2 separate regions of the Homo sapiens genome follow, and region 1 is linked to region 2. Evidence: fine-mapped expression QTL. A gene starts in region 2. The other region holds a variant in brackets. All regions are shown on one strand. Distances are from middle to middle.

Evidence for each region. PIP is the estimated chance that this variant, and not a neighbour inherited with it, causes the effect. A credible set is the group of variants that fine-mapping cannot tell apart.
Region 1: its variant is the best candidate, but not a certain one, in a credible set for the expression of MAP3K9-DT in prefrontal cortex (BrainSeq, PIP 0.56).

What each region holds. Positions count from the first base shown.
Region 1 is chr14:70,840,502-70,845,873 of GRCh38, forward strand. No RefSeq gene overlaps it. Among named protein-coding and RNA genes, the nearest start is that of MAP3K9, 34 kb to the left of the region's middle. The variant C/A (reference allele first, on the strand shown) is at 2,445.
Region 2 is chr14:70,806,121-70,811,492 of GRCh38, forward strand. MAP3K9-DT (MAP3K9 divergent transcript) reads left to right here and starts at 2,664. Exons shown (of 2, transcript NR_184164.1): 1 at 2,664-3,167. MAP3K9 (mitogen-activated protein kinase kinase kinase 9) reads right to left here and starts at 3,393. Exons shown (of 12, transcript NM_001284230.2): 1 at 2,646-3,393. The coding sequence starts at 3,051. RefSeq lists an enhancer at 1,955-2,014 and a silencer at 2,955-3,594.

The sequences.
Region 1 (5,372 bases), 34 kb after region 2:
AGCAGGTCTGTTGTCTGGTGAAGACCCAGTCTTTGGTTCCAAGATGGCACCTTGAATGCTGCATTCTCCGGGGAATGGGGTGGGGGACTTGCTGTTGGCAGAAGAGTCCAGGAACAAAAAGAGAGAGAACCCACTCCCAAAAGCCCTTTTAGAAAGGCATTAAGCCCACCCATGGCCTAATTACCTCTTAAAGGCTCCACCTCCCAATATCATTACATTGGCAATTGAATTTCCACATGAGTTTTGGAGAGGACAAACATTCAAACCATAGCAGGCAGGCAGACTAAGTTCTTTCCTTCTCTAAAGATGGCAACCAGTTATTTTATAGCTGTGAAGACAGAGGAGCAGAGAAGCTCTCTGTCACCAACAGCTTGCAAGTAGGACACACTCTGCACCTCTCACCTGTCACAACTTTGCCTGGCCCAGGGAGCTCCAATAGCTTTATCAGAACTTCAGATTTTTGTAAGAGAAGTGACCAGATGTAGATGAAATTGTCCTTGACTTTCCCAATAAGTGCCCCAGCTCTTTTTACATATAAGGTGTAACTTGGCTATGTAACCTAGCTAGCAATCTCTTCAAGCTCCTATGGCTTTTTAAAAGATGAGCCAGTGAGGCTGGGCGCAGTGGCTCGAGTTTGTAATCTCAGCACTTTGGGAGGCTGAAGTGGGTGGATCACCTTAGATCAAGAGTTCAAGACCAGTCTGGCCAACATGGCAAAACCCTGTCTCTACTAAAAATACAAAAATTAGCCAGGCATGGTGGCGTGCGCCTATAGTCCCAGCTACTCGGGAGGCTGAGACAGAGAATTGCTTGAACCCGGGAGGCGGAGGTTGCAGTGAGCCGAGATCGTGCCACTGCACTCCAGCCTGGGTGACACAGCTAGACTCTCTCTAAACAAACAAACAAACAAACAAAAAACCAAAAAGATGAGCCGGTGAGCGTAAGCAAAGCCCATTAACACTGAAAGTACAGGAGAAGCATACCCACTCCACATTAATAATGCCAAAGTCTTGTCTTAAACTGTTAAAGTCTAGTAGTGTGTATATTACAAGATAGGAGTGACACTGCTCCATCCTCTGGACCCAATGGTAGAAGCCTGATATTGTGATTTATCCAAATCACACCAGTTATAGCAATGGATAGAGGAATGATCTGGGAATTTAGAGTCCTGTCCACCAACCGCATCCACAACTGCGTAAGTCATTTTATTTGTTGAACTTCAGTTTCGTCATTGGGAGAAACAAGATTGTACCAGAAGATTTTTATCAAACTTAACTGTATACTGCCAAAACACAGTACCACAAACTGGTGGCTTAAACAACAGAAATGTGCTTCACAGTTCTGGAGGCTGAAAGTCTGAAATCAAAGTGTTGGTGGGGTTGGTCCCTTCTGAGGACTGTGAGGGAGAATCTGTTCCTCGTCTCTCTCCTTGCTTCTGTAGCCTCAGGTATTCCTTGGTTTGTAGATGACTGTCTTTTCCCTATGTTTTCACATTGTACTCTCTCCATGCATGTCTGTCTCTGTCTAAATTTCCTCTTTTTTTTTTTTTTTTTGAGACGGAGTCTCGCTCTGTCCCCCAGGCTGGAGTGCAGTGGCGCAATCTTGGCTCACTGCAACCTCCGCCTCCCGGGTTCAAGCAATTCTCCTGCCTCAGCCTCCTGAGTAGCCCACCACCACACCCGGCTAATTTTTTTGTATTTTTTTTAGTAGAGATGGGGTTTTACCATGTTAACCAGGATGGTCTCGATCTCCTGACCTCGTGATCCGCCCACCTCGGCCTCCCAACGTGTTGGGATTACAGGCGTGAGCCACCGCACCCGGCCAAATTTCCTCTTTTTAAAAGGACATCAGTCACACTGAGTTACAGCCTGCCCTAGTGACCTCATCTTAACTTGATCATCTGAAAAGACCCCATTTTCAAATAAAGCCACCTTCATAGGTACTGGGGGTTGGTATGTCAACATCTTTTGGTAGGGACAGCTTTCAATCCATACACTAACTTTCTTAAAAAAAAAAAAAAAAAGAAAGAAGAATATATGTGAACCTAAAAGTAAACAGGAACATCTACCAAGAGGAGCGGGAATGAGTGTTGGTAGGTGGGTAGGAGACCACAGTTGCCCACCTAGCCTGATCTCTGCCTAACTGCAGGTGTTCTACAGGCTCCTTCCATAGAGATGACAGGATGCATGGAAGGAAGAGCACCCTGGAAGGAAAACACACAGTTCCAGAGGCCTCTTCAAACAGTACCAGTAATGCATACATAGAAGTGCAAAGGTGTGTACAGATTTATTTGTTCCCTATAGATACAGAGCCAGCAGTACTTAAGCACATAAATCCAGCTTTTCATCAATGAGAAGCCAAATGAGTCTCTCATTCATTTATTACTGGATCCACCTGTCTATATAAAGCCCATCTTCATTTTGCCTGCTTGGTAAAAAAGGAAA[C/A]TCTCATTGGCTCACCTAGCTCTTAGACTATAAGAAATAAAGTCTGAATCTTTCATGAGCTGCATGTCTAGGCCAGAACCCAGAAAATGGACTGTGTCCTGACCAAAGGTCAGTTATTTTCTGCCTTTGCCTTTCACTAGCATTTTACCTTGGCCTTTTTTTGCTCCCATCCTATGTGAATTTCCCATGCCTCTCCTCAGACACACACTCTCTGTAGAGAGATGCAAAATCTTTATGGAGTAACAACCTTTGTAACAATGAAAAAATTCCTCCCCTGATGACTTGGGACAGATTGGAGCCAAACCATTTCCTTCAGTCCCTGAGCACATTGTTTCCCTCCAGTGACTTCTGCAATCCAGAAACAGCTGCAAATTCCAGTAAAACAATGTTCTGATCCAATCCCTCAAGCCATCTTTACCCTTTTGTTTTTCTCTCTGGAGGGAGGAAAGAAAAAATATTTGAAAACCTGCCATGGTGCGTTATTTCCAAGCGTCTGTTGATGGAGGTGTGAGCCAAGAAGCCCTTTTTATTGGAGGAAAGAAGGAGAGAGTAAAAATGGAAGCAAGGGAGATATGAAAAAATGATGGAAAAGGGCATGGAGAAACATCTCAGAGAGTGGAATAAAGTTATGCAATGGAAAAAAAATGAGCAAAAACATTGCCTATACAATGCAACTGAAATGTGCTCAATTCAGGTTTTAGCTCACCTCTGGCTAAAGGTAAGTGAGCTTACCCTGGCTCACTTTGGGTAAGCCAGGAAGCCAGTCTATCTCAACATTTAATTTGGGCAATTTTTACATGAAACTAACCCATAAGAGAACATCAGGATATATTAAAATGATGCTGTGGCCAGGCATAGTGGCACATACCTGTAGTCCTAGCTACTTGGAAGACTGAGGTGGGAGGATTCCTTGGGCCCAGGAGTTTAAGGCTGCAGTTAACCGTAATTACACCTGTGAACAGACACTGTACTCTACTCTGAGCAACAGAGCGAGGCTCCATCTATTAAAAAATAAAATAAAGGATACAGTGAATTGAAAATGCATGAAGGTATGTTTCACAAAATGATTTACAGGAATACTCTTGTAATTTGCAACCTTCACAATACACTTAAATGGTGTATCAATTTATAAAGCTACCTTTTAATTTATCTTACAAATTAAAGTTTATAAAATTGCCCTTTCAGATTCATTTCTACCTCTTCTCATTTCTTGCTGTAACTACGGGACTGGTCTTTTCAGATGGAATCAATGCTCGCCCTCTAGCTTCTGGTTGGGGTTAGCTAACAGGAAGAATCACCAGGAGATTGAAGAGCGGAGAAGTTGAGATTGGGGTATTTATTACTATGGCTCCCTCCCTGATGGGTCACCATGGGTTGGTTGCTTCCCTTTACTGAAGATCACAGCTCCTGAAAGAGGGGTGTGTCCCTCCCTCTTCATGCAGCTATGCTCTGTTCCTTCCCCTTTCCCCTGCATGTTTTGGAGGCATGGGTAACCAAACCCTACTGTTGCTAGAACCCAGGGTACTGCATTTTTCTCTTCCAATTCCCTAAACCTCACCCACATCTTTGTGTGTGTGTGTGTGTGTGTGTGTGTGTGTGTGTGATGGAGTCTTGCTCTGTCGCCCAGGCTGGAGTACAGTGGTGTGATCTCGGCTCACTGCAACCTCCACCTCCCAGGTTCAAGTGATTCTCCTGCCTCAGTCTCCCGAGTGCTGGCACCAGCCACCACGCCTGGCTAATTTTTTGTATTTTTAGTAGAGAGGGGGTTTCACCATATTGGCCAGGCTGGTCTCAAACTCCTGACCTTGTGATCCACCCACCTCAGCCTCCCAAAGTGCTGGGATTATAGGCGTGAGCCACTGTGCCTGGCCCACCCACATCTTTATAAATAAATTAGTCCCTTAAACTCACCTTAATTATCTAGTTTGTGTGTGCTCTACGCCTGATTTTTTCCTTCACCTAGACTATAAGTCCCTTGAGTGCAGTCTTATAGGATGTTTCGTGTGTTCTCAAAACATCTAGCATGGTCCCAAAACTTCCAGCATGATACAGAGCAAAGCTTTGTCATTCACAGTGTTGATGATCTGAAGAAAGTTCCTTCATTTAGTCTGCCTTCTTTCCAAAGTCACACATGCAGACCTATTTAGTGAACTCTTCATGATTCCATCTATTCACACAAAGTCAGCCCATCATTTTTACCCAATACCTGTGTTTAATGGGATTTTGCTGCTATGGAAAGTAGTGTGATGTAATGGAAACAGCAGGGGGTTTGGAGCCTCACTGACCCAGGCTCAACTTCTAGGTCTGCTACCTTCTAGTTGGGTAACAAGGAAAAGCTGCTTAAAGTTCCCAAGAACCACTGACATTATATACGAATGTGAGATGAAGAATTATCACGTCTCTGCCTCCTTCTCCCTCTTGCTTCTTCTCATCTTTACCAGAGTGGCCAACTTGTGTCTTTTGTCCTTAATTTAAACACAATGGCCAGTGGTATAATGAAGCCAGGCTCCTGAGGAAGAGGGGATAGAAAAGAAAGGAAAGGAAAATATTAGAAGGTTTAGACATTGGCAGCATGGACCAGGCTTATGATAAATATTTAAATATGATTTTTGGAGACATGAAAGAAATTATGATACTTAAAGAAGCTGATGAGGAAACACATGAGGAAGTGTAAAAAAATGAGCAAGAGACCAGCACAGTGGCCTGTAATCCCAGCACTTTGAGAGGCTGAGGCAGGAGGATGGCTTGAGGCCAGGAGTTAGAGACTAGCCTGGGCAACATAGGGAGAACTTGTGCTACAAAAAAATGAAATATTAGCCAGACACGGTCGGGTGCACTTGTGGTTCCAGCTACTTGTGAAGCTGAGGAGGAGGATCACTTGAACCTAGGAGAGTGAGGCTGCAGTGAGCCATGATTACACCACTGCAC
Region 2 (5,372 bases):
GTGGCTCAATTTCATTCCAAGTCTTCGGAGACAAGGTTTGTCAATCGTCTTCACTTTCCGAGTGACACAAACTGATCTGGTAGAGCACATAGACTTCAATGACCGCCCATGTTCACCCTCTGATGAACCAAGGCACTGCACTGAAGTTTTATATTTACATACTTAATCTCCCTCATGTAACTTATAAGCAACTTCTGATCTTATCACTTCTTTATGTCCTGGTACTTAACACAGTGTACAGTATCTATCACTCACTAGGTACTCAATAATTAGTTTTTGACTGAAACTAAATTTTCTGAATTATCAAAAATTAATTCTAGTCAAGATCAGAACTCCTAGTGAGGCCAAATAAAAGAACGTGTCAGGTCTTTCAAATGCCATATTCTTCAAGTTAATTCTTTCCATTAGAACAAGTTACTTCCTACTTTCTCAACATCTGGGTTCCAGATTTAGGAATCCACTCTATCCAAGATAACTTGTATGACAATGAAGATAAGTCCTGGCCACCAAATGAAAAAGTAGCACGCTGTTGCCATGCCTAGCTCTGTGGACAGTTTTTCAGCCTAAGTCATACTGACTCTTGACTGCTCTAGCAGCCAGAGCACAAGATATTGAAGAAACCGAGTTCCTGATCACGAACCTCACCTAGCTCTTCTGCTTTGACATTAGCTGTCCCTGAAAACAAAATCACAAAACTTCACCCACAGAATCAAAATCTGACTTATGTTTAAAATGACACTGTTTTCTAACATGCCAGGCTATTCATATTTCTTCCAATATATGACCAAGTTCATTTTCAACACTTTCAAAACACTATGCCAGGATGCTTAGCCTTAAGGCTACCAAACTAGTCCCAAAAAGATGTAGTATCTGGAAACAATTTAAAGTAATTTGCTACCTCCAGGCATTTTAAAGATCAAAATGAAGAAAAATGAAGTTTTAAACTGAATGAGAGGGAGAGGGGGAACCTAAAGATTTGAACATCGATTTGATAGTCAAAACACCAACAGAAAAAGAAGAGCAGAAAAACAAGCGAAGAGGCTATGATTTTGATATTATGTGCTAGTTTTTAAAAAACATCTAAAGATAGGCCAGACACGGTGGCTCACGCCTGTAATCCAACACTTTGGAAGGCCGAGGCGTGCGGATCACTTGAGGTCAGGAGTTCGAGACCAGTTTGGCCAATATGGTGAACCTCATCTCTACTAAAAATGCAAAAATTAGCCAGGCATGGTGGCGGGCGCCTGTAATCCCAGCTACTCAGGAGGCTGAGGCAGGAGAATTGCTTGAACCCGGGAGGCAGAGGTTGCAGTGAGCTGAGATTGCACCACTGAACTCCAACCTGGGAGACAACGAGACTGTCTCAAAAAAACAAAAAAACTCAAGATTAAAGTAACACAATTGCTGGGGTAAAAAATAACTTACAGAGCCAAAAACGTAACTGTTACAAAGGAAATCTTAATATTTAAATATTTAAAGTTGGTCCTTGCTAATGACGTTTTAAAAAATCAACTAAGATGAAAGTATACAAAATAAGGAATAAACAGTAATTAATACATATTAACAATACCTTTTTAACAGATAAGAGATTATGGAAACTCTCAAATACAAAATAGTGTAAACTGCACTAAAGAGATATTTACATGTTTTTTTCTGAAATAAACTAGTATGATTAAGGGATTGTGATGGCAATTTAACTCCCTTGAAAAAAAAAGAAGATTTCATTATAGGGTATGAAATATGGGGCTCCTGGAAAATTGACGGAAACCAGGACACTGGGAGAAAGGCCCTGGGAGGGACCCCTGAGCATGGTCCCCCTGAGATTTGACCAGTTCCAAAGATAGGCAAGGATCTAGAATGAGAAGAAAGAAGAAAATGTATTTCCCAAACAGCCTCACTGTCAAAGGACTGGGATTCAGCCACTGTACCTTGCAATCCTGATCTCCCATGGGGGAACGACATACTTTTTCCTCTCTAATCATCACTTGTCTCACCCCCACTCTCAACACACACATCCCTCTTAGCACATTAATCAGTGAGACTCCTAAAGGTACAACTTCTGAGATATAAGAAATAGGATCCAAGAAATCAACCCGACATTTTACAGGCAACTGAGCCTTGAGTTCACACATGCTTCCGGGACTTGTGAGCCAGCTCAGCCCTGCGGAGACACCCCCATCTCTTTGAAAGCAAATGCCTTTAGGAGGCGGGGACAGGCGTTAGAAGAGGTGGTGGCAAGGTCCCTGATTTGGGGACTAAGGCTAGGACACTAACCACCATCTTGCCATAAACACTTCCAGATTGGGAATGGGGGGCGGCGGGGGGGTGGGTAAGAGAAGGGACTGGGAAACTGGCAAATTCTCAGACTGGGACTTCAGGATGTGGAAATCGGGAGCCACTGCTGAGGTGGCCAACTGAAGGTGAAGAAGCCCAAGCGTCTGAAGTGCGGGCAGGGCCTGAGGCGTCTCGAGCTTATCCAGCAAGCAAAGCCCGGGCAGCCTAAGCGCGCGCCACCCACACCCAGGTCAATCGTCCTCCCCACCCCCCGCCCTCATCCCAGCCCTCGCGCAGTGCTCCCCCCTTCCCCGACCGCCCCCCAGGCCTCCGTCATTCCCCCTCCCCGCCCGGCCCCGCCTTCGCCTTACACTGAATGGGCGGGTAGCAACTGGGGTCCTCGCCGCCGGGCTGGCAGCGGCTGGAGAAGGCGCTGCGCGGGGTCACGTAGTTGCTGGGGAAGATGCCCACCCGCTGGTTCAGCTGCCCGGTCCACCAGCCCTCGTCGCCGGACACCTGCGAGTCCTTGGACAGCACCTCCACCACGTCGCCCAGCCGCAGGGTCAGCTCGTCCTCGCCCGCCGCCTCGTACTCGAACACGGCCGTCCAGTAGGGCAGCGGCGCGTCGCAGCCCAGCTCCCCGGGGCCCACCGCCGCCGCCGCCTCCTCCTCCTCCTCCTCCTCCTCCTCGGCCCCGGCCCCTGCTCCATCCTCCCCCGGCGGGGCGGCAGCGGCGGCGCTCGCTAGGCAGCCGAGAAGCGCTCTGGAGGGCTCCATGGAGCGGCCGATCCATAGGGTGCGGGGCCGCCGCCGCCCGCAGGAGCCGCCGCCGCCTATTGTTCATGCGCCTCCGCAGAGCTGGGAGGACCCCCCCCCAACGACGGCGGCCGCAGGTAGGGCCCGGGCTGGCAGGGCTGGGAGAGCCGGCTCGCCGGCGCTGTTACCGCGGTACGAGAAGAGCGCCGAGCGCGAGCTCTTCGCGCAGCCTAGGGGCGCAGCGGGCCGAGTCCCCGCCTGCCCGCTCGCCCCCCCGGGGGCGGCCTCGTCACCTCTGCCGCCGGTACCTGCTCGCGCAGCCGGTGCCCGCCGCTGCCAGCCGGCCGCCGCTCTCCTCTCCGCGCCGTGCCGTGCCCCGCCCCCCGCACCGCCAGCTCGCCGGGACCACCTGACGCGGGCCTGGCTCCGCCCCAGCCCTGCGGACCCCAGGGGGCTCCGCCCCACGCCCGCCCCGCCCCGCGCCCGCTGCCTTCCCATTGGCTGCGGCCGCCCAGTCCCCGGTTCCTCCGCCGTGGTTGGGGCAGCCTAGCTGGCCGTCTCGCAGGTCCCTCTCACCCCCTGCGCCGCCGTCGCACCGTGCCCTCCCCCATTGCGGGCTCTGTCATTCTCAAACCCAGGTCGACCCACTCTTCCCGCCCACTGGCCCGCCGCAGCTCCCTCCATTGGCTCGCGGCACCTGTCCGTTTCCTGGGAGAGTTCAGCACCTCCCGGCAGGAAGAGGCTCCGGCCTCATTGGGTGCGTGAGAAGGGAAGGGTGGATCCTAAAAGGTAATACTGAGCCTTCATTCAAACTAAAAGGCTGGAAGGGAGGCAGCTGCCTTTGTTTGCCATGGATGGGTAGGGGCTGCACTGAGCAGCACCGGTGTTCTTCATCCGGCTGCACCCCCAACAGAGCTCTTTCTTCCCCAGATCCCTTTTACAGTTGGATTCTCCCTCTTGGATCTGGCTCTGCCTTAGTCCGACCTAGAGGGATCAGCTTCGCCCACGCCCACTCTCACCCGGAACCTTTCATCTCTTATTGAAGCCTTTTAGGCCCATTGGGATGTTCATTAGAACTCTGAAAACTACAGTTCTCCCCTTTATGAGGACTGCACCACAGCTCGCCCTCTCCTGGGTTCCGGTAAGAAGAGATTCCAATACCACTCTTTTTTCAGAATTCAGAAAGGCAAGAGACCACCTTACTGAGCTTCAAACTGGGGCTGGGAACGCTGCCATGAATTGGGCTTGGTCTGTCTGAAGGGAGCCACCTTTTCGACAATCCTTAGACTTCTTTTGCCTGTTGGAATTACACCTTGGATCGTGGCGAAGTCTATAGAGGTCAGATTAAGAAGAACCAAAGCAGAATAAACGTAGAACCCGATGCTGAGTTCACGAGTGAGGACGACCTCTTCCTATATGCTTTGCTATACCCTGCGTTTTGAACATTAAGGACGAGATAGGAGGCCCATAATGTTTCTTCTTGCTTTAATCCTGTCGTGGCAACGTTGACTTCCAGTAAGAAAGGTTCTCTGATCTTTTTTTCTCTTTTCTTTTCTTTTCTTTTCTTTTCCTTTCTTTTCTTTTCTTTTCTTCCAGGGTCTCAGTTTGTTGTCCAGGCCAGAGTGCAGTGGCGCAATCTCGGCTCACTGCAGCCTCAACATCCTAGGCTCAAGCCATCCTCCCACCTCACCCTCCCGAGTAGCTGGAAGTACAGGCTCGTCTTGAACTCTGGGCTGAAGTCATCCACCTGCCTCGGCCTCCCAAAGTGCTAGGATTACAGGCCTTAGCCACCTCACCTAGTCCTCTGAAATTTCTAAATAAGCCAGTGCTGAAGGATCTAGCCCAACTTCTACCAAACTTTGTTACCTTTTCCCCTTCAGTGGTAGGAATAGACATGATTTATTTAGCAAGGGTGAGTGCTTTTGTTGAATTTTAGTTTGGGGTTTATTATTACACAAACTAAAGACAGCGGGGCAATTTGGAAAGATAACTAGGCAGCTGCATGACTTCAGGCAGGTGTCCTAACACTGTACTCTTAAAGTGAGGGGAGTGAACTGGAAGATATCCTGTGTCCTCATAGTTTGAACATTCTGTGGTTCGCTCATCAATATGACTACACTGTATAGTCATAGCACACATTTGAGGTCTTGAAGAAGAGAGATGAGGCTTGTTCTAAAAAGCATCCAGAGTAGGTCTTGAAAAAGGATTTCTGTTTAAGTAAAGACCTAAAACAATGCTCAGATTCCTATTATACATAGGATCCATGAACTGGAAAAGATATGGATGAGTCTGAGTAAATTATCTAGGTTTTGTTTTAGACAAAACCATTCCACTGTCAAGCA